Regions from separate parts of the Homo sapiens genome. Here all the other regions are linked to region 6. The links come from fine-mapping of genetic effects on gene expression. A gene starts in region 6. Each other region holds a variant in brackets. All regions are shown on one strand. Distances are between the middles of the regions.

What was found. PIP is the estimated chance that this variant, and not a neighbour inherited with it, causes the effect.
Region 1: its variant is fine-mapped to the expression of XYLT1 in whole blood (TOPMed, PIP 0.97).
Region 2: its variant is fine-mapped to the expression of XYLT1 in CD4 T cells (CEDAR, PIP 0.95).
Region 3: its variant is fine-mapped to the expression of XYLT1 in monocytes after R848 (Quach 2016, PIP 0.95). The same link has a PIP of 0.9 or more in monocytes after LPS and monocytes after Pam3CSK4.
Region 4: its variant is fine-mapped to the expression of XYLT1 in rectum (CEDAR, PIP 0.95). The same link has a PIP of 0.9 or more in B cells, CD8 T cells, monocytes and transverse colon.
Region 5: its variant is fine-mapped to the expression of XYLT1 in whole blood (TOPMed, PIP 0.97).

What each region holds. Positions count from the first base shown.
Region 1 is chr16:17,367,810-17,372,809 of GRCh38, forward strand. The region is part of intron 1 of XYLT1 (xylosyltransferase 1); the gene reads right to left. Among named protein-coding and RNA genes, the nearest start is that of XYLT1, 100 kb to the right of the region's middle. RefSeq lists an enhancer at 1,777-1,866. The variant G/A (reference allele first, on the strand shown) is at 2,124.
Region 2 is chr16:17,084,374-17,089,848 of GRCh38, forward strand. No RefSeq gene overlaps it. Among named protein-coding and RNA genes, the nearest start is that of XYLT1, 380 kb to the right of the region's middle. RefSeq lists an enhancer at 1-302. The variant A/T (reference allele first, on the strand shown) is at 2,740.
Region 3 is chr16:17,160,220-17,165,219 of GRCh38, forward strand. The region is part of intron 5 of XYLT1 (xylosyltransferase 1); the gene reads right to left. Among named protein-coding and RNA genes, the nearest start is that of XYLT1, 310 kb to the right of the region's middle. The variant C/A (reference allele first, on the strand shown) is at 2,521.
Region 4 is chr16:17,100,123-17,105,597 of GRCh38, forward strand. It overlaps XYLT1 (xylosyltransferase 1), which reads right to left. Exons shown (of 12, transcript NM_022166.4): 12 at 1,647-5,475. Among named protein-coding and RNA genes, the nearest start is that of XYLT1, 370 kb to the right of the region's middle. The variant G/C (reference allele first, on the strand shown) is at 2,454.
Region 5 is chr16:17,376,322-17,381,321 of GRCh38, forward strand. All of the region lies in intron 1 of XYLT1 (xylosyltransferase 1), which reads right to left. Among named protein-coding and RNA genes, the nearest start is that of XYLT1, 92 kb to the right of the region's middle. The variant A/T (reference allele first, on the strand shown) is at 1,930.
Region 6 is chr16:17,468,701-17,474,134 of GRCh38, forward strand. XYLT1 (xylosyltransferase 1) reads right to left here and starts at 2,260. Exons shown (of 12, transcript NM_022166.4): 1 at 1,734-2,260. The coding sequence starts at 2,096. LOC107987234 (a long non-coding RNA gene) reads right to left here and starts at 1,727. Exons shown (of 2, transcript XR_001752091.2): 1 at 1-1,727. LOC105371106 (a long non-coding RNA gene) reads right to left here. Exons shown (of 3, transcript XR_933144.3): 3 at 2,307-3,404. RefSeq lists enhancers at 1,040-1,309, 1,430-1,479, 2,254-2,755.

The DNA of each region.
Region 1 (5,000 bases), 100 kb before region 6:
ACCTGAATCAAACCCATCACTGTTTGGTGAGGCATGGGAGATCCAGGAGGAAAGGCCTATTTCCTAAGGGCCACACACAGTTTGGATTAAAATTCAGTGTAGAATGTCAGTTTTTTGATACCAAATCTGGAGTTCATCCCATTTTGCCAAAATAAATTTCTATGCACATCCCTCCCTGCTTTTCTTCACTTCCTCCTCTTTTGCTCCTTCACAAGAGCCTCTGACCAGGACATCTATTGTCGAAGATACAGGAAAACTGTGATTCAGCAGTGCTTCGCGTCTGGAATGACTCCAAGAGGCCACACACAGAACTGCCGACACAAACCACGGGGGGCGGAAAAAACGATCCCAGGAGGTGGGGAGTGGAGAGCTTTGCAGTCCCAGGCTACAGCTCGGGATGTAGAGCTGCCTTCCTAGGACAGAAGAGAGACGATGAGAACACCTGGCTGGAAGGTGGCCCTGCAGGGGACGGATGGGCCTTCTACATTTAGAGTCAGGATGGAGTCAGAAAGCTTCAGCAGGGGAGGGACTCTGCCTGCAGCCTGTCCCCTCAACCTCCTCTAATATTTCTTAATGAAACGATAGTGACAATGAAGATGACAGCCTTGATGACAGCGCCCAGTAGACCGCTATCATTGGTTAAGTCCTTATGAGATACCATAATTCACCATTTATGAGCATTACTTCAATAAACCCACATTCTATCCTCATGAAGTGGCTGTTCCCAGAAGGCCATAAAGACTGGATAGATAGATTTTTTTTTTTTTTTTGGTTTTTACTTTAAAAAAAAAAAACGACAGGGTCTTGCTCTGCTGCCCAGATTGGAGTGCAGTGATGTAATCATGGCTCACCACAGCCTTGAACTTCTGGGCTCAAGCAATCCTTCCACCTCACCCTCCCAAGTAGCTGGGACTACAGGCCTGTGCCACCACGCCTGGCTAATATTTCATTTTTTGTAGAGATGGGGTCTTCCTATGTTGCCCAGGCTGGTCTTGAACTCCTGGTCTCAAGTGATCCTACTGCCTTGGCCTCCCGAATTGCTGGAATTGCAGGCAAGAGTCAGTGTGCCCAGTTTGCTTTTTCTCTTGATGACATTAAGTATTTCCTTGTTCCTGGATTATGAATACCCTGTAGTACTGTTCCTAATTTATATAGGAGGAAACTGAGGCTCAGAGAGTTTCAAAGACTTGGTTGAAAGCCACAGAGCCAGGCCCATTTAACCTTAATATCTTCAGAGAGGTTTAAAAAAAAAAAGAAAAAAAGGTAACCAAAATGCTTGGATGTGGTATGGTGTGATCTGCATGGTGCACAAAAATACTTCTTTTTTTTTTTTTTTTTTTAGATGGAGTTTTGCTTGTCACGCAAGCTAGAGTGCAGTGGCGTGATCTCGGCTCACTGCAACCTCCACCTCCCGGGTTCAAGCGATTCTCCTGCCTCAGACTCCTGAGGAGCTGGGATTACAGGCACATGCTACTAAGCCTGGCTAATTTTTGAACAATACTTTTTTTAAAATTAGGTGCCAGCATTTAAAATTTAGGGTGAAATCATGATATTCTGATTTGTGGCTTTTCGTGAAATGTGGAAAGATCTGACCCACTGGGTAGGCAGGTCCACTTAAGGCAGGCACATCCCCTTCTGTTTGCCACAACCCCACCCTGCCCACCTGGGCTGAGCCCTGAAAGCATCTAAGTTTATGACCTTCCTATCTGTTCACCACCATACCTTACCCCTCCCCCACAAAGGAAGGTACCATGTTACCCCATGAACATGACTCCAACCCTCACCCGCCAACCTCAAGAAGAAAAATTCGGGATCCCGTGACTTCACAGCAGAAACAGAAAAACTCAAATAATCCATCAGGAAGTTGAGCACTGAGGTTAATACACACAGGACCATCTTCCTCTAGCTCAACAGTCTTGACTTTTCAGGGCCGTGACCCAGAAGGGAGGTGCCCGTGCAGAAGGCAGAACAGGAAGAGGTTCTTAGCACCCACTGTTTTCTCTTCCTGCACAGCCGCCTTGGGCAGCTGCCTGTGAACAGCCTGGCTGTTTTTCTCCTAGCTCTCTCGGAAGGAAGTGCTCTCATCACCCACGACAACAGAGTTGGCCCGAGGAGCCAAAAAC[G/A]TGCAAAGGGGCTCCAAGCCCAGCTCTCCTTCTGTTCGGGGCAGCCTCAGAGACAGGAAGATGGGAAGAAAGTATGGCCTGGGATAGAACATCCTGCGAGACCCTTACAAAGCCCCAGCTGTGGGGGAAGGGAACAACAGGAGGGGGCCAGAGGAAGGGGGTCCAGGTCACACCAATTTTATACAATGAGCTCCTTTCATCCGTGAATAGAGGACTCTCCTTAACTCTGTCTCAATGGCTTTGTTTCTGAAACGATCAATTCTACACCCAGAAAGCCAAATTTGCCAGACCTCATGCCAAGGTCAGGCAAGAGCCTGAGATCCCCCAAGCAAGTTGATAATCAACACGCAGGAGACGACGCTGTGCTAAGTCCCATTTGGCGGATCCAAAGCTTACAACGATCCGCTTTCATTTCTACGCCTTCTGCAGTGGGGCGGGGTTGGGGGACCCTCGCTCACATGCATGCCACGCTTGGTGGAACTGTAGGCTGTATTCAGGAGAGTAAGTGTTACTTTCCCAGGGACTTCATTGAGACATCTGCGGGGAGGGCAGGATGAGAAAGAGCTGGAGAAACAAGATGCAAGGTAAAGTGTGTGGTCTCACACTGAACACGTTCATGAAGTGGTGGGAAGCAACCCTAGTGACTCAGCAGTGGCCTCTGTTTAGCCAGCACTTTGAGAACACGATCTTCATGGGCTGACTGCAGAGGTGGCCAACAGAAACTGGAATCTACAAGCAGTATTCAGCTCAGGCATAGTTTGTTCAGCCTGCACAATGTTTTAAAAAGAACAACAAAAACCTACATAGGATGCCAATACTTCACATTCAGGAGGTTTCCCATAAAACTGCAAAGTTCTGGCATTTTTTGGAAAAATCAGAAGACCTAGCTACACAAATCCAGCATTTTCCTAAGGCACTGCCTTTCTGGCACTGGAAAGCAGCTATCTCCCTTAGAAGGGTCACAGGCCCTCCTGCTTGCCACAGTCCCCGCCCCAGACACATGTCCTTCACTTACGGCTGCCAGTGTGGCTGCTGTGGGCATTGGTGTTTGTAATCTCTGGTTTAGTGGATCCTAAGCTAAGCCCAGCACTTTCAGCTGGAGGACCTGAGGTTAGAGAGAAGGACGGGATATGAACCATAGACAGGTTGTAAAGTAACGTGGCTGCAAAGTCCAAGAATAATTTAACTCAAGAAGCACCTATGAATGCACACCCAGGAATACAAGGCAGAGAGCAAAGTTGACTCCCATGGATAGGGGTGAGAGTCCTGTCTTCTCATCAGCCCCTGCTACATACTTTTGACAACTTGTCCCACTTCCCCAGGACCAGGGACTATCTTCTTTGTTTTTATGCTTAATGAAGTCCTAAGACTGCCACATAGAAAGCACTTGGTAAATTCTTGCTGAACCAAAATCAACGGAAACCCAATTCATGTTATAGGTGGAATCTGAGAGATGTATGCTGAGAACTCAGCCAACTTCTGAGCTGTAGGATGTTTTCCTGACTGTAAGTCAAGGCAAGTCCTCCCTATAAAGAAGAGTTTGGGGTATAAATGACACAGCAGAAGGAGACAAGCTCAACCTACTGATTGGCTAATGTCTGAGATGAGGAAGCAGAAAGGTTAGTCTTTATAGGATATGTAGCATATCTGATGAGCTATGGTCTGTTAGGAAGGTACTATACGTACTAATTTCATAAAATTGAAGTATGTTCCAACTTATCAAAGGATGCAAAAACTCCACAGAAGGAAGGAAGGACCTCATGTGGTGGCAGGTGCAGCATATTTTACTGCAACCTTTCTAGGTCTAAAAAGGTAAAATGAGGTTTATCACATCTGCTTCTGCTGTGTATAGCCATGGCTAGTTTTCTCCAGCTCTGTTTATTAAGAGACAGAGAGAAAGAAAGAGAGAGTGTATGTGTGTGAATATGCATGTGTGTACACACACATATGTGAGCATCCACATGCACATACAGGTATGCATGTGTGGTCTCTTTCATTCAACACCCCCCCAAAAAAAGTTGCTATGGGATCTGTAGATTTTGTTTGCTGAGTATCCCTAATTTTGGAATTCCCTCTGTTCTAAGTTGCCCCATTCTTGGTACTAATTTCAAATGGCTGTGGGGGAGGGGAGGCTAGCTTCAGACAAGATTCCACTAAGAGTTTTACTTCTGAGCTGGGATAGAAGCAGGAAAGAATAACAGGAAAAACATGCAGCATCCCATCTCTGCACTTTGCATTTAGTTATAATTATTCACGCAGGAGCATCTTTAAACACCAAACGAGGGAAATATTACAGTTGTTCTGATTTCACATGCTAACTGTGTTTACATGCTAACAGCATTTCTCAGGGACAATTATCTTATTACTAGTGCACTAATCTTTTCAATCTTTTCAACACATTTTACAGCTGCAGACTTCAAAAATTAAGGCTAATTAAGACCTTGCTTTCAGCAGGTACAGTAAACTACTCACATTCCAACATGGTAAAAGAAAATCAGTTTAGGGGAAAGGGTGTTAGAGGGGCACAGTGTCAATGGCAGACAGAATACATTAGATAGCTTCCATCAGTGTGAGGACTACAACTCTCCCAATGCTAATGTTCAAGAACAAGTTCCATTAATGGTAAGGCCTGTCGAATTCAGGACCAAGGACAGCTGGTCTGGCCCATTTTTAAGAGAAAGTGGGTATTTTGCATTCAATTATCCGTTTCCATTCATTATCTTCTTCCGTGTGACTTCAGCATAGAATAGTGGCTAAGAACATGGAAACTTGTATCAGAGTCTCTGTGTACAAATGCCGGCTCAATTATTTTCCGTTTGAACTTGAGCAAATTACTTGAGATCTTGGTGCCTCAGTTTCCTCATATGCGAAGTAGGA
Region 2 (5,475 bases), 380 kb before region 6:
TTCCCTGCTCATATATGCAAGGATAACACTATGGAGGGAGATAGAAAAGCTGATGGTATTAATGACAGCATCATGGAAGATCTCACTGAAAATGTGACCACTGAGCAAGACTTGAAACACAATCCCAAGTGAAGGCCTTAACATGGTGCACAAAGGTTGTAAATGCTAAGTACATGTTAGCTTTTATTTAATTTATTCACTAATTAATGTCGTTATTCATCTACTTATTTATTCATCTGGCTAATTCTGAATTACTTACTCATCCACCTGTCCATTCATCCATCCACCCATTCATTCTTTCATCTGACATTACCTGAAGGATATGAATAATATTATTTCTATATTCAACATACCAAGTGCCATAATAAAGGCAGATGTAGATGAGGTTTAGAGCAAAATTTCTTAGCTTCAGCACTACTATCATACCTGGTCATATGATTCTTTGTGTGTGTAGGAGGGGTTGTCCTGTGAATTATAGGATGTTGACAGCATCCCTAGCTTCTGTTCACTAGATTCCCATAGTACTCCCAAGCCGTGACAACCAAATATGTCTCCAAACATTGCCAAGTGTCCCATGGGTAGTGGGGTGGCGGCGGGGGAGGAATTGTCTTCAGTTGAGAATCCCACATTTAGAGGAACACCTTTCTCAGGAAGGAAAATTAATCTACTGCATTTCTCTAGAAAGGAAATGAATCTAAGACTTTAATTTCAGTAGAAATAATAGCATTTTCCAACATTTTGTTTCTTAGAGGCATATTTTCTTGTGCTGAAAAGCAGAAGGGACTTGGGGACTATTTGAAATTGAAAACAGAATCTTACCCCACAGGAACTCTTTGCATTGCCTTTGAGAATTGTGGCTCATTCAAAAAACATCTCCAAGGCTTACCGAAGAAGTGGTTACAACAGGGAAATCTTCACTAACCTGAAGGAATGCAGGCTCATGCTTGGTGCCTTTGGAATTCTTGCCTGATTTTATTGATGACTCCACAACTACAAAGCTCAGCCCAAGATTCCTCAATGGAATAACAAACAGCAAGACTTTCTCTCTAAAGAATTCTGTTGAGAGCAGCCACGTGACTTGATTCCTTGGAAAAAGAACCATGCCTTACAGGGTATCATGTCGAGGCCAGAGCAGCCATCTCTGCCTAAGGGCACCTTTCCAGGTCAATCTCTTCCAAGGACAGCTCCTGACTACTAGGAAGGTAACTTAACTTGCCCGGTTTCTCACTGCCCTGCATATATCTATTCCTGGAGACATCTATGGTGCAAGCAAGTTGTCTGGAAATCCTGCAGTGTCTTAAGCAGCTCTTGAATTTTACCATTTCCCCCCATTCCCACTGTATCTCTTCTTTCCTCCTCTCCCATCCTGGTCAATCAAGTCCCATTTGGTCAATCACGGTAGCTGAATAACTGTTCACCTCATTCCTATGGAGGGTTGCTCACTTCCACCTGTCCTCTGCACAGTAGAGTTCAGTCTTTTCACTAAACACAGACTTCAGTGCCAGCTCCGAGTCCTGGCCTGCAGGGTAATGCATGATCTGCCCTTCTCTCCAACTTCCACACCAACCGCTCTCCCTTCGTGCTCAATCTGCTTTTGTCCCCCCAGCCTCCTTAGCTCATTTACACTTTAAGACGCCAATAGGGTTATCTTATCCCCTCCCAGCACCCCCCAACACCAGTCAAATCTTTGCTGGTAGCCCATTGTTTTGTGGCTGAGAATCCTAACAAGGCTTCCAAGTCCACCACTGTCTGGTTCTTGTCTACTGTAACACCATCTTCCACTATCTCCCATCCCTGTGGTCCAGCTGCTGTGTCTCCTCTGCCCCTCATGTGCACAGGGCTCTTCCCACACTAGGGCCTTTGCTCATGTGACTATCTCCACTCTAGAAGCTCTTCCCTTCCCTGCATGCTGTTTAAGCCTTCACCATGTATCAAAGCTCAGATTCAGCCTCTATTTCTCATGAAGACTTCTCTTACCTCCCTGACAAGTTCCTGTGCCCTGATTATACATTCTTATAGCATTATATTCTCTCATTCACTGCTTCCTAGTTGCAATTTTATATTTATTTACAAGCTTATTATATTATCAGCTCTCATCTATCCAGTTTCTAAGCACCTCAAGAAATGGGACCATATTTGTTATGTTACCATTTTGAACTTAGTATAAAGTGCCTGACACATAGTAGGCACTGAGTAAATATTATATAGTTGGGAAATTGAATAAATACACCCCAGCACTCCTCAACTACGAAGACTTATGTTTGCAAAATTAGGCTAACGTGAGCTTTTCTGGAGCCATGGGGGAAGGGTTGAGGATGGAATAGACTAGAGAATTTGTAACTGGGGAGGTATGAGGGCAGGTCAGCATCAGGAAATTACATCACTTGACATTTTCTTACTCCCTTTTGTGTCTGTACCTTCATCTTATATTATCCAATATTACAAGCCCCTTGAATGTAGGCATAGAGCCTTTTATTTCTAAAACTACAGTGAGCACCTAGCCCACGACCTGGCATATAGTAGGTGCTTAACAAAGCTGCACTGAATGAATAGATGCCACGCATTCTAGATTTAATACAGACCTTACCATCTAAGCTGAGGTTCATTCAGGAGGGACTGGGAAAGGAATGTGAAGGCTCATGATTGTTATTTATTTATTTATGAGATGGAGTTTCACTCTGTTGCCCAGGCTGGAGTGCAGTGGCACGATCTTGGCTCACTGCAACCTCTGCCTCCCGA[A/T]TTCAAGCAATTCTCCTGCCTCAGCCTCCGGAGTAGCTAGGATTATCGGCATGTACCACCATGCCCGGCTAATTTTTGTATTTTTAGTAGAGATGGGGTTTCACCATGTTGGCCAGGCTGGTCTCGAACTCCTGACCTCAGGTGATTAGCCTGCGTTGGCCTCCCAAAGTGCTGGGATTACAGGCGTGAGCCACTGCGGCCGATCGTTATTTATTTATTCATTTATTTGAGACAGGGTCTGGCTCTGTTGCCCAGGCTGGAGTGCAGTGGTGTGTTCATATCTCTCTGTACCTTCAAACGCCCGGTCTCAAATGATCCTCCCACCTCAGCCTCCCGAGTTGCTGGGAGTACAAGCGTGCACCACCGTGCCTGGCTAATTTTTAATTTTTTTTTTTTTTTTTTTTTGTAGAGACAGGGTCTTAGTATGTTGCCCAGGCTGGTCTCAAATTCCTGACCTGACCTCAAGTGATCCTCCTGCCTTAGCCTCCCAAAGTGTTGGGATTACAGGTGTGAGCCACCGTGCCCAGCCAAGATGGTTATTTATTAGGAAAACATGGTACATTGAAGTTTTTCACAAAACATACGACAGAAAGAGCCTGGATAGTTTTTCTTTTTAAGCTAACATTTATCAAGAACATATTTTTTTTTTTGCCAGCCCTGTGATAAACGCATTATATGCATTATCTAGTTAATTTGTAGATGCTGCTAAATTTGCAGATGAGGAAACTGGGGCTTGGAGACATTCACTTATCAGTCTAAGGCCAGAGAATAGTGGCAAAATTAGCATTCAAACTTGGGCCTGATTTTAAAATTCATGGGCTTAGCAAGTTTGCTACAAGGACTCTTGCGCTAACTCTGGGTTCATAAATGAGTCATCCAACACCTTTTGCCTTCATGCCCTCACCCATTGGATAGATGAATCCATTCCTACTCACATCTCAAGGCTAAATGAAAGAACGCGTGTTTGTGAACAGGCATCAGAATACATATAACTGGAAGGGGTGCCATAATTCATTTATTGTGTTCTGGCTCCCCACCAGCCTAACAGGGCCTGTTATTATGTGACCTCCCATTGCTTAAGCCTCTGATAAGACAGTAAGTCTGTATACAAGGTGACCATGAACTGCTACCTGCTTTCCAATTGCTGTTGGAAGAGCTCCTTATACCTTACGAGGCTAAGAAGATAGAAGAGGTATTTCGCTCTGGTTTTGAGCAATTTGTTCTACTCTGTGAACTTCTGTGTCTGCTTATCCAGTTTCATGAAAATTAGATTAACGAGTACTAATTGGTGCTGACTCCGCTAGCTTAAAATGGATGGTGTCAAATGGAAGAGGAGCCCACCAGTGTGATGTTTGGATCCCAAAGCTGCTGGGAATTAAGTTTCTGCATGGATGTCGATATCATAGGTTACTTGTGGCAGCTTGCTCCAAGCTACTTTTATGGAACACAGTGTCACCCCCACAGATCTTTGAAAGGAGGAAGGATGCTTTTTCCAAAGAGGATTTGCTTCAGATGATTTGGTCAAAATGCTCATTCATTCGAGGAATCTTTTTTGAGCACCTATTAGATGCCAGGCTCTGTTTTGGACTCAGGGGTACCAGTGGTGAATAAAACAGGCAAAGTTCCATCCACATTAAGCATACATTCTACCTAAGGTTGGTAGACAATAATGAAGTAAATATATAATGTCAAGCAGCATTTCCATCTGATACTTGTATATTGATTAAATATGAGATAAACACATATTTTAAAAATGCTTTGTTGAGATATAATTCATATACCATAGAATTCATCCATTGAAAATATACAAATCAGTGGGTTTTGGTATATTGAGTTGTGTAATTATCACCACAGTCAATTTTATAACATTTTCATCACTCCAAAAAGAAACTCAGCAATCTTTAGTTATCACCCTCCTATACCCCATACCCTACCTCCAGTCCTAGACAACCACAAATCTACTTTATATATAGATTTGTCTATTCTGGATAGAGAAAATATCATCTTTTGAGAGTGAGGAGGCATGGGAGGAGACTTTACTGTCCTCACCTCCCAGATGAGGCATTTTGGATTTAGTTTTCCTTGGAGCTCCCTCTAAGATCCAGACTTTTAATCGCTTCACAGGCTCAGTTTCTGGGGGATAGTAGGGGTGCTGGCCAGTGTCCTGATACAGATCCTCTTTTTTACCACTTTACCTTTCACCTCTAAGTCCTACTTGAGATAACAGGTGCAGAGCCAGTCAGCAACTGAGAGTAAATATGCATATATGGAAACAGAAGACACTCCAGTCAGCTGTGCAGTCACATCTCCAAGCAATAAATAAGCACATCATGTTTATAGAAGCCTCACTGTAGTCCAAATTACTGTAATCTCTTACCTGGACTGTTTTAGTAGCCTGGTCTCCGGTCTCCCCATGTTTCATCTTGCCTCTCTTTCAGCCTGTTCTTCCCAAGATACCACAATAAATGTTTCAAAGTGTGAATCTGTCCATGTCACTCTCATGCTGATGAAAATCCCACATAGTCCTCAAGGTAGTCAAGGCTTTCCTTTATAGCCCCTGAGGGCCTGCAAAACCTGATCCCTGGAAGCCTTTCCGGCATCATCTGTCACTATTCTTCCTCCAGTGTCTAAATCACTTTTAATTCCTGCGAAGTGTCACATAATCTCTAGCCGGCCTTTGCCCTCTCTGGAACATTCTTTCCTACCTGCATTGCCTGACTAGCTTCCATATGCCCT
Region 3 (5,000 bases), 310 kb before region 6:
ACATGCCCAGCACCTAGTAGGCCCATCATGCATATATACTGAATGGACAACTGGGTGGATTTAAAGGGCACACAGTAGGGGCACAATCAATGCACGTCGTCCTGCTCTGCCTCCCAACTCTTTGGTCTGAGCTGCCCCTACTGCTCACCCCCTCCTTCATTTCCCTGCGCCTCTGCAGTCTCGCCACTCCAAGCCCCTGTTCTCTCATTGGATGACTCATGTTGACCAACTCATAATTCCAGCGGAGGGGGCACAAAGCAGTTAAGAGAGGCAGCAGTGAAAATGAGCGCTGCTCGTGTCCCATCCTATTACTGAAATAAACACCAATTCAAAACCAGCCATTCTAGCAGCGGCAGGCACCAGAAACACCCCGTGTGTCTGCAGGGAGTTGAATACAGCACACACACGGAAAGCTAAACCTTGCTGATGGGCACAGAGGTGAACCCAGGGGATGCTCGCAAAGGGCTAACCCCACGTGTCCCTACAATGGTGCATCTCCCGCGTGGTTAAACCCCATCGTGCATGCCAAGGTAAAGTCCACTGGTGCCTCCGACACTGTTACCTGTAGTTTGTGGGGACAGAGCCTCTTTAATAAGTCGCTGGGAGAGGTGGAAACTAAATCGGCCTATAAAAAAATTTAAGCAATGTTTCTCTCCAAACCATAAAGAGGCCCATTCCAACTGCGTTTTAACAGCTCTTATTTACCAACCCCCTCACCACTCTCCGCAACAGTTCATTATTGTTGTCCTGATGAATACGAGACAAGTTAACCTCTGAATGGGTCCCCGGCAGTTGGAATAATAAATAAGGTCTCTCAGACACCCTTAGTGGGAGGATTGAAGGGGCCGGGCCGGGGCTCCTGGGCCCCCTTCTCGTGAAGCCTCAGGTCTCCCAGGGTCAGCGGCTGCAGTTCCATTTGGCAATCCCAGAAAGCGCCTTTCAGGGCTGTGAGCTGGGGCCATTTTCACATTTACCGCTTCACCGAGTCCCCATCTGACGGGGATGAATAGGCATTTAGCGAATTTACTTAGCGATGCTTCCACATGAAATCGTCTCAAAAGATGACATCTTGGGGGAGGGAGGGTGGATGAGGAGGGGGCTGAGGTTTCCAGGCCCAGAGCTTTTGGGCAAAGCCGCCTTTCAAAGCCAAGCGCTGTGTGCTTGGCAAAGGATCCTGATGGATTGTCTGGAAGGGTGGGGCGGGGGGACCCCTGCCTACCCCCCTTGCTAGGGTCTCGGGCCCCTCGCTCTCCCTCTGTGTGAAATGCTTGCTCTGAATGCTAAAGCCCATCCCCCCAGTCCTTCTCCAAAGGGAGATGGAATTTGGCTGAGGACCAAATTCTCCTATTGTTGCTTTCAGACGCCTGTCGATAATTGCCTACATAATATTTAGTTCTCTCCAGATAATTAACAGCTTGCGATCTGGTGACATTTTACCCCGTTCCAGTTTCTCGCGCGCTCTCTCTCTCTCTCTCTCTCTTCCACTCACACACGTTTCTCACTCTCTTTTTCTGGTGAAGTCATTTGCCAAATGGTTCCCATAGTTCATCTCTTGTATCTATCTCATCATCAATTTCCTCCTACTTTTTGCTGAAATGATTAGAAATCATGTCTCTTGGTCTATGCCAGTTCCTCTGCTTCCTGAGGATAACTGGGGCCTGTTGCTACCACCATGGGAGTCACTGGGAAGTCTCTGCTGAAATAAGTAAGAAATAAATGTTAAAATAAACTTACTGGGAGCCATATGAGAATCTTTTTCGAAATGAATAAAAAAATGAGTAATACAATAATCTCCCAAGTCCCAGCCATTTACTAAATGTGCACCATGCCCTAGGCCATGGGGAAAGACTTTTGCCACATTTTATTGCATTTGATAGTCACAATGATGCTAAAAAATGTAAATTTTGGCTGGGTGTGGTAGCTCATGCCTGTAATTCCAGCACTTGGGGAGGCCGAGGCAGGTGGGTCACTTGAGGTCAGGAGTTTGAGACCAGCCCGGCCAACATGATGAAACCCTGTCTCTACTAAAAATACAAACAAATTAGCCAGGTGTGGGCATGTACACCTGTAGTCCCAGCTACTCAGGAGGCTGAGGCTGGAGAATTGCTTGAACTTGGGAAGTGGAGGTTGCAGTGAACACAGATCGCTCCACTCCACTCCAGCCTGGGTGAAAGAGTGAGACTCTGTCTCAAAAAAAAAAAAAAGGAATTTCACTTCACTCTCATTTTACGGACGGGCAACCGAGACTTAGATAAATCATCCATTTAGTAAAGTGCAGAACCAGAACTGGAACCTGGGGACAAATGTCACAGCTTGTGTTCTCTACTACGAGACTGCCTCTACAAATGATAGTGAATGAACGAGTGAATGAATGAATGAATGTATTCCATTTCAAGTGCAGAAGAAAAAAAATACAGGCGCAATAATGTCTTCCTCTTCATAGCCTGGTCTGCAGCCCACTGCTATTAGAAATGCCATACTTCAGGCCCCACCCAATACCTATTGAGCAACAGAGCTCAC[C/A]CAATATCTATTGAGCAAAAATGTGTTTTCAAACAAGATTCCAGATGATGCATGTGCTCTTTAAAATTTCAGAAGCATTGCTGTAAGTCATGTATGACTATGAGTAGTTAATTCTCTGCTTTCCATCTTTATCTGCTCCTCATGGTTTCTTCTGGAGAACCCGGACTATGAATGAATTACTTTCATTTCAATAAGCCTTAGGTCTTGAGAGTATTAAATAAAAACAATGCACCTAATATCTGTGCCACAGTACTTGGCATATAGTAATCCCCTGATAAATGTCAGCTATTATATAATAGCATTATTATTACCATCTTGAACATCAGAAGCTTAAGACACCTTGAACTGTGGAAAACAGTGTAAAGACCCAACCTGATTTGAACTTGGAAGGCTTTCTGTGCATAAGACCCATGGAATGTTCTGCAGAGCATAGTTTAAGAGATGTCCAAGGCCCCTTCCTGGGGATTTGTCCAAGGTCCCTTCCCAGCTGGTGTCAGACTTAGGGACTGGCTCCCAGAGGGCCATGGCACCATTGTGTGTGTGTCTTATCTATATAACAGCTCTGGACATGAAGATATGAAGGAAGAGAGGGCAGAGTTCTCAGGTTCCCATAGCACCCAGGAGCCCAGGCTGTATGGAAAAGGTGCCCTGGGCACACAGAGGCACACAATGCCTGTTTGCTGGTGGCATGTGACAAGAGATGAAGCCTGCTCAGCTTCCACTAGGAAGGAGCCCAACACAAAGCCAACTGCACCTCTCTGGGCTCCCGGTGCCCACCTGGCACTCATGCCCCAGAACCCCTTCCCGACTGCAGGATACTGTCAAGGACCCTGCCAGAGGTGCTCACAGCCCAACGGTGAGGTGACAGGACTAAAGCCAAAGTTATACGCAGGATTTTGTGAATGTCAGGATTCAGGATTTCAAACCTCTGATGCTGCCAGGTGTGCACAGAGCCCAGGGGACACTGGAGTAAGTCCTCCTGGACTGCAATGAACGACCCATTGTGGGGCAGAAACACACATGAAAGACTATGGGGAGGCCAGGCATGCCTGTAATCCCAGCACTGTGGGAGGCCAAGGCGGGTGGATCATTTGAGGTCAGGAGTTAGAGACCAGCCTGACCAACATGGTGAAACCCCGTCTCTACTAAAAATACAAAAATTAGCCAGGTGTGGTGGCATGCGCCTGTGATCCCAGGCTGAGGCAGGAGAATCGCTTGAACCCAGGAGGTGGAGGTTGCAGTGAGGAGAGATCGCGCCACTGTACTCCCACCTGGAAAACAAGAGCGAAACTCTGTCTCAAAAAAAAAAAAAAAAAAAAAAAAAAAAAAAGAAAGACTATGCTGGTGCATGAGGGACTGTGAAGTCAGGCAAGTTGAGGAAGTTGAGGGTTGAGGTGCTTTCAACCTAAGCTGAGAATAGACTACAACAGTGTTTCCCCAACTTCTGCTTCTAGTGTACCCATAATCTTTAAGTTATTTCATATGTCTATTTAATTTAAATTCTACTTTAGCTTTATCTTATGCACCAATGTTTGTGATATTTGATGTCACAAATTTTTTTTTTTTTTTGGAGACAGAGTCTTGCCATCTTAACCATTTTTCTGAGATCAGACGAGGTTGGGTGTGTTCAGGGTGATATGTCTGTAGACCATCTTAACCATTTTTCAGTGTACAGTTCAGTGGTACTGGATGGATTCACATTGTTGTGCAACCATCACCAATATCCATCTCCAGAACTCTTTTCATCTTGCAAAACTGACACTCTCTACCTGTTAAATAATAATTCTCTATTTCTCTCTTCTATAGCCCCTGGCAACCCCCATTCTACTTCCTCTCTGCTATTTTAACTATTCTAGGTACCTGACATAAGTGGAATTGTACAGGATTTGTGTTTTGCTGGCTGACTTATTTAACTAGCACCATGTCCTCCAGGCTCATCCATATTGTATCATACCTTAGAATTTCTTTCCTTTTTAAGGCTGAATAATACTCTCTCATGTACCACCTGTATGTTATTTTTTTCCCTGTTACACATTAAAAACATTAACGACCACGTGTCTGTATACTTCTTAAATCAACTGGGCTACCAGAGGCACATATGGAAGAGGTCAACTGTCCTGGTTTGCCCAGGACTGAGGGAGTTCCCACAACACAGGACTTTTAGTTTTAAAACTGGATGGTCCTGAGCAAATGAAGATGAGCTGGTGACCCCAGGCACATGGCTCCATTGAGGGCTGTGTAACCACAGGAGAAGTGCACACTCCACAGAGGCAAAAATCTCACCCTCCTGTGATCAACCCAATGTATAGAAAACAAGATAATGGCAGGGCCTATTGTAACCTTTTCCTATGCCTTTAAAATCATTATGAAAGCTTAGATCACAGCAAGATAAAGACTGAAATACCAGCAATAGCAACATCATCATCATCTAACACTTGAATGCCTCCTATGTGGTATTTGCATCTATTAACCCACTTAAT
Region 4 (5,475 bases), 370 kb before region 6:
ATGCTCAGAGACCCAGCCTAGAACTCAACTTTCAGCACCTTGGCAGCAAGGCCTCAAAGCCAACCGTACAAAAAGCCTAGATGTTTTCAACATCGGTGTGGTGTGACTTCAAAGCATGGTCATCTACGTATCCCATGGAGCCATGAAAGAGGCGGGCTGGTGGGGGTGGGTGCACTTGCTGAGACAAAGCTTTCTACTCTCACTTCACCCAGGGCACCCCTCCTAATCACCCATTTTTAAGTCTTTTTTTTTTTTTAAATATATATATATGTGGAGGTTTAAGGTACACTGCTTGAAAAAGCATTCCCCTTAAAGAAGAAAAAAAAAACTCTTAAAATCACGAATTTAATGAACTTAAACCCAGTAAATAAGCAGGAAAGAAATTCCAACTGACCCTTCAGTAGGCCCAGAAACCTCATTATTGAAGGTAAAAAATCACAGCTTACTTTACAATGACCCATATTTTGACAAATACTATCCATCAAATGATGGTTTTAAAGACAGAATCTTGGACAAATGGCCCCATGCCCATATTGTTAATTAATTAAGATATATGGTCTCATTCACTTGTCCGTTCACTGAATATTCACTGAGTGCCCATACGCTGGACTCACTGTGCTAAATACTGGAGGTACCACAGTGAATAAGATAACTGTGATCCTTACTCCTACGCAGATTTTAGAAATTTATTCTTCCCTTGCAACTGAACTCATTTTTTGAGGAATTATCTCCGGGCAGAGGAAAGGGAAGTTGGCTGTAAGATCAGGCTGGAAAGAGGTTTTGACAAATGAATCTTGGGTCCATCCATCTGTCTAAATATGGAGTCAGTCACCATCTCTCCTGAGCCAAGCTCAAGGAGGCTGAAGCTGACACAGCTCTCCATATATTTGCCCCTCTGTGTGTCTAATGGGGAGATATCTAGCCTATTTTGTTCTAGCTGCTAAAATCCTATCTGTGTCTCAGTGCCTGTCTTCCTTTAAGGATTTTGAAGGGTGAATTAGAAGCATCTTTACAACCCAGGCATCTAGGCTCCCAACCCCTGGGCATAGCCCTCAGAAACCACATATATACATAATAGTGAGCTAACCTCAGGGGTGGAGGAACTGGTCTTCCCAGTGACTTATGAAAGTCTCATTGGAAGATGGGAAACTTTGGTTCTAGACTTGACCCTGATGACCATGGGTAGCTTCAGGCAAATCCCTTCACCTGTCTGGCTCTCTACTTTACCGACTGAGTGAAGGAACCAAAATGTGGATTTTCCCAAAGAAACATTTGAATTTCCATTTCTGATTGGATTAATTAAGGTAAGGCTAGCCTGCTGTAATTGAAAGTCTCAGGGGCATAACAAAATACATATTTATTTCTTTTCATGTCATAGTCAATAGGGGTGACTCTGGTCAAGCATTCTTTTATGTGGCTATGCAGGGGCTCAGTTACCTTCCAAACTGTGGCTCTGCCTTCCTTTAAGGTAGAGGCTGTGCAAAGTTTCCAAAAAGACCACCTGAATAGGCCAAGTGGATGAATGTACAAAATCAAGGTGATTCAAAACATCTGAGCTGGCAAATAGGGAAAGATTGAGAGAGGAGAGACTCCAGTGGGAGGTTTTAGGGACCAGGGCTAGAGGTGCCATGTACCTATTCTACCTACATTCCATTGGCCTGAGTCAGTCACATGGCCATGGCTAAGAGCAAGGCAGTCTGGAAGATGCAGTCTAGCTGTTCCATTGGCCTGGTCACATGGTCACAGCTAAGAGCAAGGCAGTCTGGGAAATGTAGTCTCTGTGGTAAAGAGGAAAGGAAAACACGTTTGCCAACCAACCAACCAGTTGGGTATAGGAAACTGCAACTTTCCATGGCAGTCCCTTCTTGTTATTCTCTACTCAGTACGGGTTTAAAAATCATATACTTCTGCCTCAACCAGGAGGTACTTATAGGAGGTTGTTGCTATAATCCAGTTAGAAGATGACAGCAGTTTTTATGAGGGAAATGTGTCCACACACCCAGGTTTTCCCAGGATAGGCCATTTATGCCTGCAGTCTCAGCATCCCATCCACGTGGTGCTTCCTTTAACTCTCAAAAGTATCCCAGTTTGGATGATAAATTATATAGTCATCCTATCTTCACCATGCAGATGACAGAAGAGAATATGAGATTGTGTAAAGATGCACAATGTTGCTGAAAAGAAGCCACATATAGTCACTGTTCCATAAAGGCAGTGTTTTTTTAATTTTAAAATTCTGCATCTGAAAACACAGTATGACAGAAAGCATCTATATACACCTGCAGTGTTTTTGGTATGATACAGTATTTAATACATCCACTGTTTTCTGCAAAAAATGTTGCTTTGTCAGACAGAAACAAACTCCCCTAGACAAAAAAATACAGCTAAGGCACAATTTTGTTGTTGTTGTTGTTCTGCAAAATAAAAAGACAGAAAAGGTGCAAAAAAGGGCA[G/C]GTAATGCAGTCATTTCTGAGACTCACATTCTACCTCAAGGAAAAGCATTCAGATGATTGGAACTTTGATTACTGGTCAATTTCAGATAGTTCAATATCTCTTAAAATACTCCTTTAAATAAATAGCAAAATATCTACATATTTCAGCGTGTGCCATTTGAATTCTTTTTTTAAAACTTTATTTACAGATTTTTTTTAAAATCAACACATTACAAAATATTTCTGTACAGTTTTATGCATATTATGATCTATAACAAAATAGTTATTTTTAAAAACTATATCACCACATGTCTTTGAAAACAATGAAGGGGACGGTAATAACTTAGAGTGAGGCCTCTAAAACAAATACCCAAACAAATGCTATTGACAACATAATATTTAAAAAAAAAAAAGGCAAAAGGACTACAAAGACAATTGCGCACAATTCCAGTGAATTTCCTATGAAAACCCTGGGGTTGTCTTTGGCCTCCATCAGCACTGGAGCAATGGAAGGGTAAAGAATAGAGTCTGAAGGTAGGGAAAGGGTGATTCCTTTGAGAACACTACCCATCTGCTGGGAATATTTAGTGCTATCACTTTCCAGGCAGGAAGGACGAAGAGATAAATGGAGAACGTCTCCTGATTTACCCTTGAATGAAGTACATATAAAGTCACCCAGTCTTGGGGGCAGGGGAGGTCTGCAAAGCCTTTTCAAGCACTCTGCCGATAATTAAGCCAGCCCATTACAGCAGCAGTATGCTCTGAGAGAGTGCTTCAGGAGTTGGCTGAGCTTTAGATGAGCACCCAAGCCTTCATTTTGCCCATAGGAAAAATATAAGAACATTTTTCTTAAAGACGACATTTGTAAGCAATTCCTATAGCATCTGCCAACTACAGATTGGCAGCCCCTTCCTTAGGAGGCTGCCACAGAAGCTTCACGATGCTGTCTTCTCTGATGTTGGTGGAGATGGGAGGGAAAGGATGGATGGTCAGCTTCCCAAAAATAATGTTAAGGCCACATTTCAAAAAGGAGAAACCTAAGGCTTTTGTTTTGTTTTGTTTTGTTTTTGAAGGAGGGATGGGAGAAGCAAGTTGGAGGAACATGAGGGATGGAGTAGATGACGTTAGGGAGGGGGATGACAAGGTGCAGAACCCGCTTTCTGGTGGTATCTGTAGGCAGAGGCAGTTGGAATATTCCCAGCCAAGTGGAGAGGGAAGAGAGGTCACTTTCTCCCTGCATACGCCTGGTAAGACCAGAGCCAAAGACAACGTGAGGGGTAGACACAGGTGGCGCAAGAAAGCCCTCCTCCATCTTAAGAGGGTCCTATACAGTATCTTGTTTGCAAGGTAAACACAAAACAAAACAAAACAAAACAAAAAAACTTCTAAGAGAGCCAGAGAGGAAGAGAGAGAGGAGAGAGAGAATTTGCATAGATCATACATTCAGCTCAAGCAGATTTGGACAACTTTGTTCCCCCCTCCCAGGTAAACTTCTCAGCAGACACAATGAGGTAGCGCCTGTGGTAGACCCATGGGCAAAGTAAGGTAACTGAGGCAGAAGCAAACAGGACATCCCGTGAGCCAGCACAGCTCTATGTGGTTTCCAAAGAGGCTTCCAGGGATGGGACAAGATGGCTGTGTCAACACTTGGGATTTGGAGAGAGCCTGGCTGTTTCACACCCTACCTCCTCCTCCTCCTAGACTGTCTTTGCCATTTCGGCCTGGTTTGATGGAGTCCCACAAGCTGTAGCCCCAGGCAGATGTGGACCTCTGCATATCTAAGGGGCAGCAGTCCAGATCTCCAGATTCTATTCCTTCTTCCCTTCAGCACAATCTTGGGACCAGGAGAGCTGAATGATCCATCCCCCCTCTGTGGAATGGTCTCTTGAGGAGTGGAATGACTTAGCAAGAGGTCCCCATTCCGAGTTCAACATGGGCTGTTATTTTTGCCCTGACCTGATGCTGGCTTTTTTCCTCTTCTACCAGGGCAATGCATAATCTCACTTTAAACCACCTCTCCAGAGAGCAGAGGTTGCTGGCAGTGTACACGTGGAACAGTGGAATTTTTCTTTGCCCACTATCTGTTAAAAAAAACAAAAACAAACAAACAAACAACCCGACGTTGAAAAATCAGATTTTTTCCATTAAATCTGGATTTCCGGCTTCCCTTCCAAATTGGAAGATTCCACTACACTGTGCTTACATTTTTACAAACAATGACAGGTTGGGGCTGAGTAGCAGCTGCTCATTCTGGGTAGGTCACGTGCATGCCAGTAAGACCACAGTCCCCATCCTTGCCCCCACCATGCCCTTTTGCCTCACACCAACCATTTCACGCATCTATGCTAGTATTCTGGGCCCCATAAACATTTGTAACCCCTACCACAGTGTGTGGCTTTGATCCTGCAGGTCTAGCTTGCTGTCTTTAAAGTGGAGTGTGTTAACAGCTGTTTCTAGAATGTACACCTCTCCACCCCTAGATGTACCCCTCCACCTGAATGTACACCTCTCCACCCCTCGATACTGCTGGGAAGCTGGTGCTCCAAATCCTCAGTGAACTTGGTTGTGAAAGGACTCTTTATTCACACCCCACTGCCAGTAGCTACTGCCCTGCTCTCTGCATCTTTTTGGCAGAAAGCTTAAGGTTCTAGCCAGTGTCTTCTGTGTTATCTGCAAACTAGAGAACCAGAGGGAAACATGGTCTTCAGACACCCTACTTGTGCCCAGAGTAGAAGCAATTGCAGTGAGTGAGAGATGGGGGCAGGTCCTGTGGTTCTGCTCATCCTCTCTAAACTCCATTTGCGTTTTAGAAGTTAAACCCACAATGAGAAATGAAGCCGGAAGGACTCATGATCTCACCAGGAAAGCCTTTTTTTTCCCCTGCAAAGGGAGAAAGCAGCGCGCTTCTCACAACACGGGGACCTTGGGAATTGCTCACTGCCTCCTTGGAGACACACTGCTTTACGTGTGGACCGGGAAGTGAAGTGGGATGTGGGAAGGCTGGCTGTCTCCTGAGCTCAATTTCTGCCTGAATGTCACTCGG
Region 5 (5,000 bases), 93 kb before region 6:
GTATGGGGCTGAGAAACCCCAACCTAAGAGGACAGAGGTAGGCCAACCACAGCCAGCCAAGCTTGCAGGTTGTGTCCTTCCAGACCCTTCCTCAGGGTACCAGCCACTCAAACTAGAAGCCAGTGCTCAAGAGGATGGGTGATGTCTCTTTTGCTCACAGCTGCATCTGAAGGGCCTAAAACAGATTTGGTGACTTGTCTTTTCTGTTAAAGAACAGGGACCTGGCTGGGCACAGTGGCTCACGCCTATAATCCCAACACTTTGAGAGGCCAAGGCAGGAGGATCACTTGAGGTCAGGAGTTCAAGACCGGCCTGACCAAGATGGTGAAACCCCGTCTCCACTAAAAACACAAATATTAGCTGGGCATCATGGCTTGCACCTGTAATCCCAGCTACTTAGAAAGCTGAGGCAGGAGAATCGCTTGAATCCGGGAGGCGGAGGTTGCAGTGAGCCGAGATTGTGCCATTGCATTCCAGCCTGAGCAACAAGAGCAAAACTCTGTCTCAAAAAAAAAAAAAAAAAAAAAAAAAATAGGGACCAAATGACGAATGAACAAGAAATGCACCCAACCAGGCCAGGTGTGGTGGCTCACACCTGTAATCCCAGCACTGTGGGAGGCCAAAGCAGGCAGCTCACTTTAGGTCAGAAGTTCGAGACCAGCCTGGCCAATATGGTGAAACACCATTTCTTCTAAAAATACAAAAATTAGCCGGGCATGGTGGCACATGCCTGTAATCTCAGCTCCTCAGGAGGCTGAGGCAGGAGAATTGCTTGAACCCGGAAGGTGGAGGGTGCAGTGAGCCAAGATCGCACCACTGCACTCCAGCCTAGGTGACAGAGTGAGACTCTGCCTCACACACACACACAAAATTAGGTACTATTCTGGGTCTTGTTTTTATAGATGGAATAGTCAAGGCTCAGATTAACTAATAACTCACCCAAGATCCCCCAGCCAGGAAGAAGGACCTGGTTCTAGTGCCTATGTTGTTAACCTGCCCATCAAACAGACCTGTTGGGACCTCATGAGGCCAGACACTAACCCCCTGTCCTCAGCTAGACATGGCGATAGAGTTCCCATTGTCTGGATGGCAGAATCTTCCCATCACTGCAGTGGTTCAAGACATCCAGGCTCTTTGTTTGGCGGGACAGCCAGCCTGCTCTATTCTCAGGGGAAGGGCTTTGAGAATGGCTTATTTAGCTCACTCCCCAAGAAGCTTATCACCCCAACCCCACCCCTGCCCAACAAACACATTCCCATCAGGAAAGCTGGACGACCCTGCCTTCCATGGAATGGAAGCTATGATCCCATCCATTCAGTTCAGCCTCTCATAAACGCTCTGTTCCAAACATAACCAGAATAGTCAGGGAGTCCTCGAAACCCAGACATGACTTATTTTCTATTTCTAGCTTAACCACGTGATGCCTGTGAGTTTCAAGCACTGGAGCATCCCCATTCACGCTGGAACCATCTCATCTAGAAAGGGGAGGGTGTACAAGCAGCTCTGGATCAGCCCACTGGGGTTCAGAACAAGCAAAAGAATTTCTTTACCTCCCCTGAGTTTCAGCCTCAAAGAGCAGCAAAGAACCTGGAGCCCATTAAATCCAGCTGTGCTCATTGTACAAAGGGAAGAACTGAGGCTTTGGAGGACAAAGAAGATACCCAGATGATCTGCATTGCTCTTTTTCTCCCTTGCTTCTTTCTCTCTTGTTGAATTGGAATAGGTCAAACCTGTCTACAGTACTCAAATGTCACGGGGGTTTCCTCCACTAGGCATGGGGCAGAGCTTATTCTCAATAAATGTTCGAGAATGAAACGTCAGCAATTAACTAGCAGGCAACTTTGGAGAGGATTTCACTTCCCCTATAATTAAACACAACAAATGGCACGAATGTTGAAGGGACAATATGCATGGGTGTGTGTGAGAAAG[A/T]GGAAGAGACTGCAGTTCCCATACCAAATAGGTATTTATTTGTTCCAAGACTTTTTTTTTTCACCAAAAAATGCTTTAATATAATCACCTTTTAAATAATATACACTGTCATCTTGATTATGTCTATTGGGCTTACTCAAAGAGGCCAGGACCTTGCAGAGAAATGAGCCTGAGGTTTCCTTCTGCCAGGTCACCAGTCAATGGATATTTCCCAAAAGGTGGATCTTTTAATATATGACTGCATAATTTAACCTAAAATCCTAGTTAGTATTCTAGCAAGATGTCTCCTTCTAATTGAGGTAATTTCTAGGAATATGTTGCTAAAAGTTTCCTTTTCTTCAAATAAAGCAATAACTGCCATTTATGAAGCACGTATTAGGTGCCAGGTACTTCACTGGCCTTAACTCTTTGTAACTCATGTTTTCACCGTCACGACAACACTGTAAGGCAAATTACGACCAGTTCACAGCCAGGAAAACTGAGACTGAGGCAGAAAAGTAACTGGCCCAGTGCTGCAGAACCAGTAAGAGGCTGAGCTGGGGTTAGAACCTAGGAATGACTCTCAAGTCCAAGCTCTTTATACTGTATTCTCCTAAGCTCAGATTAAAACCCACTCCATCCCCTACTTTCTTAGTATTTCTTCATAGACAGAATATTTCAAGGAATTTAACTTTTACCACAAGGGATACAAAACAAGGAATGAGAGGACCTGTCTTACCTCCGCTTTATCACAACCACTTTGCAAAGTTACTGAGATTCAACAGCTTTGTCTGCTAAATGGGCACATAGCCCTTCAACCACTCCTTTGCTTTGCTGCCAGAAACAAAGGAAAAGGCAGGAAAAAAGTGCATATTTCTTCCAGAATTGTCAGAGGCCAGCAGATCTTCCTGCAGGATGTCAGCCTAAGCAATCTTTCAAATGCTCCCCGGGCAGGCAGCCCAACCCACCACACTCCGCTCCAAGGAGACACCTCCTAAAATAAACCCTGCTAACTTCAGTTAGCTCACCCTAAAGACTATATATAGAAGAAAAGACTCAGGAGTTCCCATTTGGCAGCAGCTTCTCCAAAACTCAGCGCAAATGGCTGATTTCTAACTTAATCTCCAACATCTGACAGGCGGCTTTAAATCAGGGAGGCCGACTAAGAGATGGAAAACCTCTGTGAGGCCAGCCCAGCCTGCCTGGGGGCAGAGACACCCCAGGGCTTTTCAGCAAACTGGAATGGCATGAAAATGGGAACCTGGCCCCCGGAGGATGCGGGAGAGAAATTAGACAAGGTGTGGTGGGTGGGAGCAGGATCCAGCCCAGCCAGGCCACTGGGCATGTTGTGGGGGTAGCTGGGGGTAGAGGACAGTGATCTGTACAGAGGCACTGCTGTGAATTCTGAATCTTGGTGTCTTCTGGGCCTCATGTTATCCTAGAGAATAACAGAAAGCCAGGGAAAGCTTTGAGTCTCCACATCTATGAAATGAAGGATATCTCTCTCTCTCTCTCTCTCTCTCTCTCTCTCTCTCACACACACACACACACACACACACACACACCCCTTACCTCCAGAGAGCCAGACATTCACTCTCAAGACACTTTTGAAAATACTGGTCTTTCCAAAGACCATCATTTGTATTTGTATTTGAAAGATTGCTTAGGCTGAATTCTGTAGGAAGACCTGCTGGCCTCTGATAGTTCTGGAAGAAATATGCACTTTTGTCTCCATTTTCCTTTGTGTCTGGCAACAATGCTAAGAGGTGGTTGGAGGGCTGGGAGCAGTGCCTCACACCTGTAATCCCAGCATTTTGGGAGGCCAAGGCAGGCGGATCACTTGAGGTCGGGAGTTCGAGACCAGCCTGGCCAACATGGTGAAACCCCATCTCTACTAAAAACACAAAAATTAGCTAGGCATGGTGGTGCACACCTGTAATCCCAGCTATTCGGGAGGCTGAGGCAGAAGAATCACCTGAACCCAGGAGGCGGAGGTTGCAGTGAGCTGAGATCATGCCACTGAACTCCAGCCTGGGCGACAGACCCAGAATCTGTCTCTAAATAAATAAATAAACAAATAAATAAAAATAAAAAGAGGTGGTTGGAGCGAGATGTGCCCATTTAGCAGACGAAGCAGTTGACTCTCAGTAACTCTGCAAAGTGGTTGTATATCCCATGGAAGGATATACAAGAAATTGTTAGCAATGATTCCTTTAAAGACAGAGACTGGAAAAGAAGGAGAAGTCTCCTATTTTATATCCTTTTCTCATGGGGGAATTTTGTTATCACATGCTTATACTCCTTATATTTAAAAAGCAAGTGTCATTCACAGATGGAGGGATAATAAGGTGGCTTCTCAAAAAATTAAATATAGAAAAACTAGATGTCAAATGCTATATAATCAGCAATTCCTCCTCTGGGTTCACAACCTAGTGAAAAGAAGGGGCTTGAACAGCTATTGGCATATCTGTGTTCAAAGCAGCATTACTCACAGTAGCTAAAAGGGGAAAGCTAGCCTAGTGTCCCTCCTGGAAGATCTGCGTGGATAAACCAAATGCAATACACACATACCATGGACTAGTCAGCCTTAAAAAGGAAGGAAATTCTGACACATTCCGTGACAGGGACAAACCTCAAAGACATTATTTATGCTAAGAGAAACCAGCCAGTTACAAAAGGACAAATACTGTGTGATTCCACTTATAGGAGGTACTTAGCGTAGTCAAAATCATAGACACAGAAAGAAGAATGGCAGTTTCCAGGGGCTGGGGGTGAGAGTGGACAATGAGGGGCTATACTTTGTTGTCGTTGTTTCTTTTTTTGTTTGTTTTGGCCTGCAAAGCGTTTTAGAACTTTTCAATTAATCGCTAATGTTTGAAACTCAGAAAATGTAAACAAATCTAGAGTGAGAGAAAGCTCATCAGTTGTTTGCCTGTGGATGGGGTTTGGGGAAGAGGGAGGTAGTTATTGTAAAGAGAAATAAGAAAATCCTGGGGGTGATGTTCATTATATCCAATAATTTGGGGTGATGATGTCACAGGTGGATACAGATATCAAAACTCATCAAATTTTACACTTTGAATATGCATAAT
Region 6 (5,434 bases):
ATTTGTTTCAACAGGTGCTACATGCATCCTAAAGGTACCTCCTGAACCCACTCTGACCCCCAGATGCAAATGATACAGTAAGCCCCAGGCTTCCCCCACCATGTCTCCCCTACACGTTCTTACACTGGACCAGCAGGACACGACCCACAACCCTCCCACCCCACCTCCTGGGCTCTGGATGCACAAAGAACTTCTAATTGCATTTCTGCGGGAACCCATCACTATCAACTCCAAGAGTTCAAAGGCAGCGTTTCAGAGTACCCCTCTCTGTAAAGAAGAGATCGCAGGACACTAGGAATGTTCTGGTTCTCCGTCAGGCAGCTCACGCCACTATTCTCCCCGCAAATGAGGGAAAGACTTCTCCCTGCTACCCACACAGCAACGTGAAATGCCATCACATCACGTCTTGGGACTGGCTCAGTTCTCAGGCATGAAGAGCTGCACTCCGGCAGAAAGGGTCGCACAGACTCCGAAGAAGTTTAGCAGCTCAGAAAGCATCACGCTGTGTACTAAGGCAGTCTTCAGTGAGGACTTCCAAAGTGACAAATGATAGAAATATGCATTCAGTCTTCAGGATCCTGAAACCATCCCCCTGGTGTCTAATATCCTTTAACGGCTAGGCAAATCCTTGCAGACAAGTAGTGTGATGAAGAAACAGACAGACACACAACACATTGGCTATGCCCTAAGGCAGAACTCACGCCCCTGGAGAACTGAGACCTTGGCTCTGAAATGGGGACTCCGGCCTCCTGCCCCATGTGCTCCTGCTCCTAGCTCAGTAGGCTGGGCAAGGCAGCCCAGAGAAGGTGGGAAAGGTATCCCTGGAGAAGTTAGGGACAGGGTAGGAAGACAAGTCAGTTCCCCACCCAGCCACCCAGATGGCCCCAGATCTGCGGAAAAAACAGTTTCAGAGCCCTGACTGTTCACACCCACGAAGGGCAAAGTAATCCCATAGGAGTGGAAGCCCTGACGGTGTGGTCGGACACACAGCTGGTGACCTGAACCGGCCGCAACAAGACAGAAAGACAGAGACAACCAGCTAGGAGAAGGAGCCATGCCCTGAAACTGGAGATGGGGAGGAGATAAAGTCACAGAGGGCATGGGAGACGGCAAGGTTAGAGACAGAGAAGGTGAAGACGGAAGGCTCAAACATCCAGAGAAGAGAAACAGAAGACCCAAAGTAAGACCAGACACCCCGGACTGAGTATTGATTCAGGGGCATGGTCGGGGACTTGGGACGCCCAGCTCAGCCCTCATCGCAGGCCAGGACGAACAGAGGGCTCAACTGTCTGCACCCAGCTCGGCAAAAACCAGAGAGATGCTGCTGCGACAACCGCCCAGGAACAGCGGCTGAGGATCCGGGGAGATCCACTCACTCAGGCAGGGAGCGAGTCACCAAGACCTACACGCACGGAGCAAGTCACCTGGGGTCCCCAGCAAGAGTGATGGGGAACAGGAACCCAGCCAGGCTCCGGTAACCCCCAAAGCGCCCCCGCTGGAGAAAACTTCCCCCAGACCCCAAGGGGTCCGTGCTCAGACTCTGAAAGGGGCAGCCCACGACCCCTGAGCCTTGGCAGGGACCCCACCCGGCTTCCCGGGGCAAGAGGCGATGTGGAGTCGGTAGGCTTGCAGAGTCCCAGTCTGATGACCGAGTTCAAGGGCTAGGGGGGCGTGGGGTCGGGCTGCCTTCCTCCCTCCCTCGCCGCGGGGCGCGAGCCGAAAGGGCATCTTACCAGAGCCCGGGCGGGCAGTGCCCCCCGGCTGGCCGGCTGCTGTCCCCGCGGTTCTCCGGGGCCGCCTCCCCGCGCCCGCGCCTGGGGCCCCCGTCCTCCTCCTCCTCCGCCGCCGCCTCCTCCTCCTCCTCGGGCTGCAGCCGGCTCGGCGGGCAGGTCCCGGCGCTCCCGGCGCGGGGCCGGGGCCGGGGGCGGCTGCTCCCCGCCGCCGACCGCTGCGCCCCCGCGGCGCTCCCCGGCCCCGGAGTCGAGGCTGCTGAAATTCCACACGACCAGCGTCTGCAGCAGCAGCACCGTGAGCGCCGCGAGCAGCGCCGAGTGCGAGCGCCGGGCCAGCCTCCGGGCGCACGGCGCCGCCACCATCTTCGGAGCGCGGCCGGCGAGCGAGGCGCGGGGACCCCGGCACGCTCCGGGCCGCCCCCGCGCTCCCCGCAGCTCCCGCGGCCGCCGGCTGCCGCTCGGGCTCCCGCTCGGGCCGCCGCCGCCGCCCCCCTCCCCACACCCCTGTCCCCGCTGGAGGGGAGGGTGATGGGGAAGGCGCCGGGGGGACGCGGGCCGAGGCGGAGAGGGCGGGGCCTGGGGGAGGAGCCGAGGGAGGAAAAGGAGGAGGGAAAGGAAGGGGGTGGGGGCGATCAGAGAAGACAGACACCCCTCAGGACGTAGTGGGAGTAGGATGGGGGGCGAGGGGGACAATTCCCAAGGCGGAAAAAGAGAGGCAGGGGCCGCGAAACAGGGGACCTTTGGTTGAGGGTGGGCCCGCTCAGAATCCAGGGGAGGTCAGGAAGAGAGGGGGTCCCGAGGTCCTGTTTTCCCTGTGGGCCGCTGGAAGGAGGCAGTGCGTGGAGGAAGCTCCTAGCCCCGGAGTTCGCGGTCCAGGGATCTTCTGTCGGTACCAGACCGGTTGGCAGGTGGACACGTGAGAAACATTTCAGGAGTGTCAGAGCCACAGTCTGATCCCTTCATCCTGGGCTTGAAGGGGTGGGGAGGAGGCTTTGGGTGAGTTTCTGGAGTTAATCAGCACAAGCTCTGTGAGTGACTCCTGAATCACACACAATCCCCGGTGCCAACGATGTACTAAGTGTTCACTGAGTCACTTCTCTGGTCCCTGAGGACTCACAAGCCAAGAGACTCCAAACCCAGTTGGCAAGTGGTATAGCGGCAAAAGGGAGACCCGTGGAGTTACTCAACCTTCGCAGGATGCAAGCCCCAAAGGCTGGCCCCGCAGCCTCCCAGCGTGTCCTTTTCCCCATCCATCCTGAAGTCCCCCTTCCTGTCTGCACAGGGCCCAGGTCCTGGGGAAACAGGTCTTGCTCTTGAAAGTGGAGTTCTTTCCCATCCTGACTGGTCTGTCCCGGTGACCTTGAGCCAGGAGGAGGAGGACTCCTCCCTGAGCCCAAGCTTTCTCCTCTGTCGTTTAGGCAGAATGATCCCAATGGACTCAAATTTCATCCCGAGCCTTCTCTGACTCAGTCTTTCTGGTTTTTCCCTCCCTTGTCCTCTTGCCCAGGGCTTTATACACAGCAGCGCAGAACAGTGAGCATATGGGATGGCGTTGGTGTCCCATACGGGACCTAGCACTCTGGGAATACAACAGCAGATCAAATCAGTTTGTGAATTGAGGACTTGGCGTGAATGCTTCGCATCTTGTCTGCTGTGCTTTTTCACCTCATCCTAATTTACAAAGAGAAGAAAGTGGAGTGTAATGAAGGCTCATCAGACAATGAGGCAGGGAGTGGGAAGAGATTGTTTCATCCACTCCACAAGCATCCGTGAATACAAAGCTTGTGTCAGACACTGGGCCAGGTGCACGCATCCAAAGGTGAATGAGGTTTAATCTCATCTTCAGCAAGCCTGAGGTCTAGAGAAGCCTGATGTGGATGTTAATCATTAAAATATAGTGAGATAGGCCTGGGCGCGGTGGCTCATGCCTGTAATCGCAGCACTTTGGGAGGCCAAGACAGGAGGATCACCTGAGGTCAGAAGTTCGAGATCAGCCTTGCCAACATGGTGAAACCCCGTCTCTACTAAAAATACAAAAATTAGCCGGGCATGGTGGCACACACCCCTGATCCCAGCTACTCAGGAGGCTGAGGCAGGAGAATCTCTTGAACCCAGGAGGCAGAGGCTGCAGTGAGCCGAGATCACACCACTGCACTCCAGCCTGGGTTACAGAGCAAGACTCCATCTAAAAAACGTATATATAAATATATATATATTGTATATATATATATTATATATAATGTATATAATAAATATATTATATATAATATATTTATATATATGTACATATAATATATATAATATATAATATATAACATATATATAATATATATATTTATATGTAAATATATATAATATTATATATATATATATGGTGAGATAAGCATTGCTGTAGAGATGTGCAAAAATGCTAAGGGTTCATGAGGGCAGGACGGGAGTAAGCGCCAAGAAAAAATGCTTTCTGAACCCATGTAATTAGCCAGTCCACTTGCCTGAACAAGAAAAGTATAAAATGTATGCTAGTGGGGGTTGTAAACTCCAAACCAATCAACCTTAGTTGTATCTAAAGCTTAGCCAGGCATGTAGCCTGGCATAGAGGCCTTCCCTTTGGGCCCAGCACCCCTAACCAGGAGTAAAAGACCAGAGGCAAGTTTCTAGGGCCACCAGTCATCTGTTTATCAGTTGGGGATATTTTGTTTACAAGCAATAACATCTATTACTAACAGTAATAAGACTTAAGTCTATCTTTTAAGTCTTTTTTTTTTTTTTTTTTTTGACACAGTCTCACTCCATCACCCAGCCTGGAGTGCAGTGGTGTGATCTCAGCTCACTCCAACCTCTGCCTCTTGGGTTCAAGTAATTCTCATGCCTCAGCCTCCCGAGTAGCTGGGATTACAGGCATGTGCCACCACGCCCAGCTAATTTTTTTTTTAGTACAGACGAGGTTTCACCATGTTGGCCAGGCTGATCTCAAACTCCTGACCTCAGGTGATCTGCCTGCCTCAGCCTCCCAAAGTGCTGGGATTACAGGCATCAGCCACTGTGCCCAGCCCGGTCTGTCTTAAAAATATACTTTACTGGATCATGTAGCTGAACATTGCAGAGGAAAGGCTTCAGGTGAGGTTTGATCTAGCAACTCACAATTATCACCTGGGATTCCTTTTCTTTCCATCTCTCCTCTCTGCTTTCCATGGAGTCTACCTTATTCCCTCTTGATGTCACACGATGCCTGGCCTCAGCTGCTGCGACTACTTTGTATCCTGTGTTCATTTCTAGCCCAGGGAAAGGAGGGTCAGTATTTCCCAGGATTTTCCTCAAAGGTTCGGAGATTTTTTTTCTGATTAGACCAGTCTTAAGTTCTGGGTCACTCCGAGACCAATCAGTGTGGCCAGGAAGTTAGAAAATGCCGATCAACTTGGCCAAGATCCCATATTTCACCTCCGCCATTGGGGTGAAGCCAGCCTCCCTGTAACAACTTGGATGCCCTATAGAGATCAGGGTCTGATGGGAAAGAAGTAGGTGCAGGGAACAGATTCCATCATTTATTCCACGCAGCCTCCCGAGGTTATATGACCTTGGCCAAGCCACCTCCCCTCCCAGGACTTAGATTTCTTTAGTGCCAAATGAGGGGTTGGAGGAGACAGCCCCCAAGATTTCACATGTTGCCAGAACGCTCTCTTAGTGTCTCAGCAGAGCTTCTC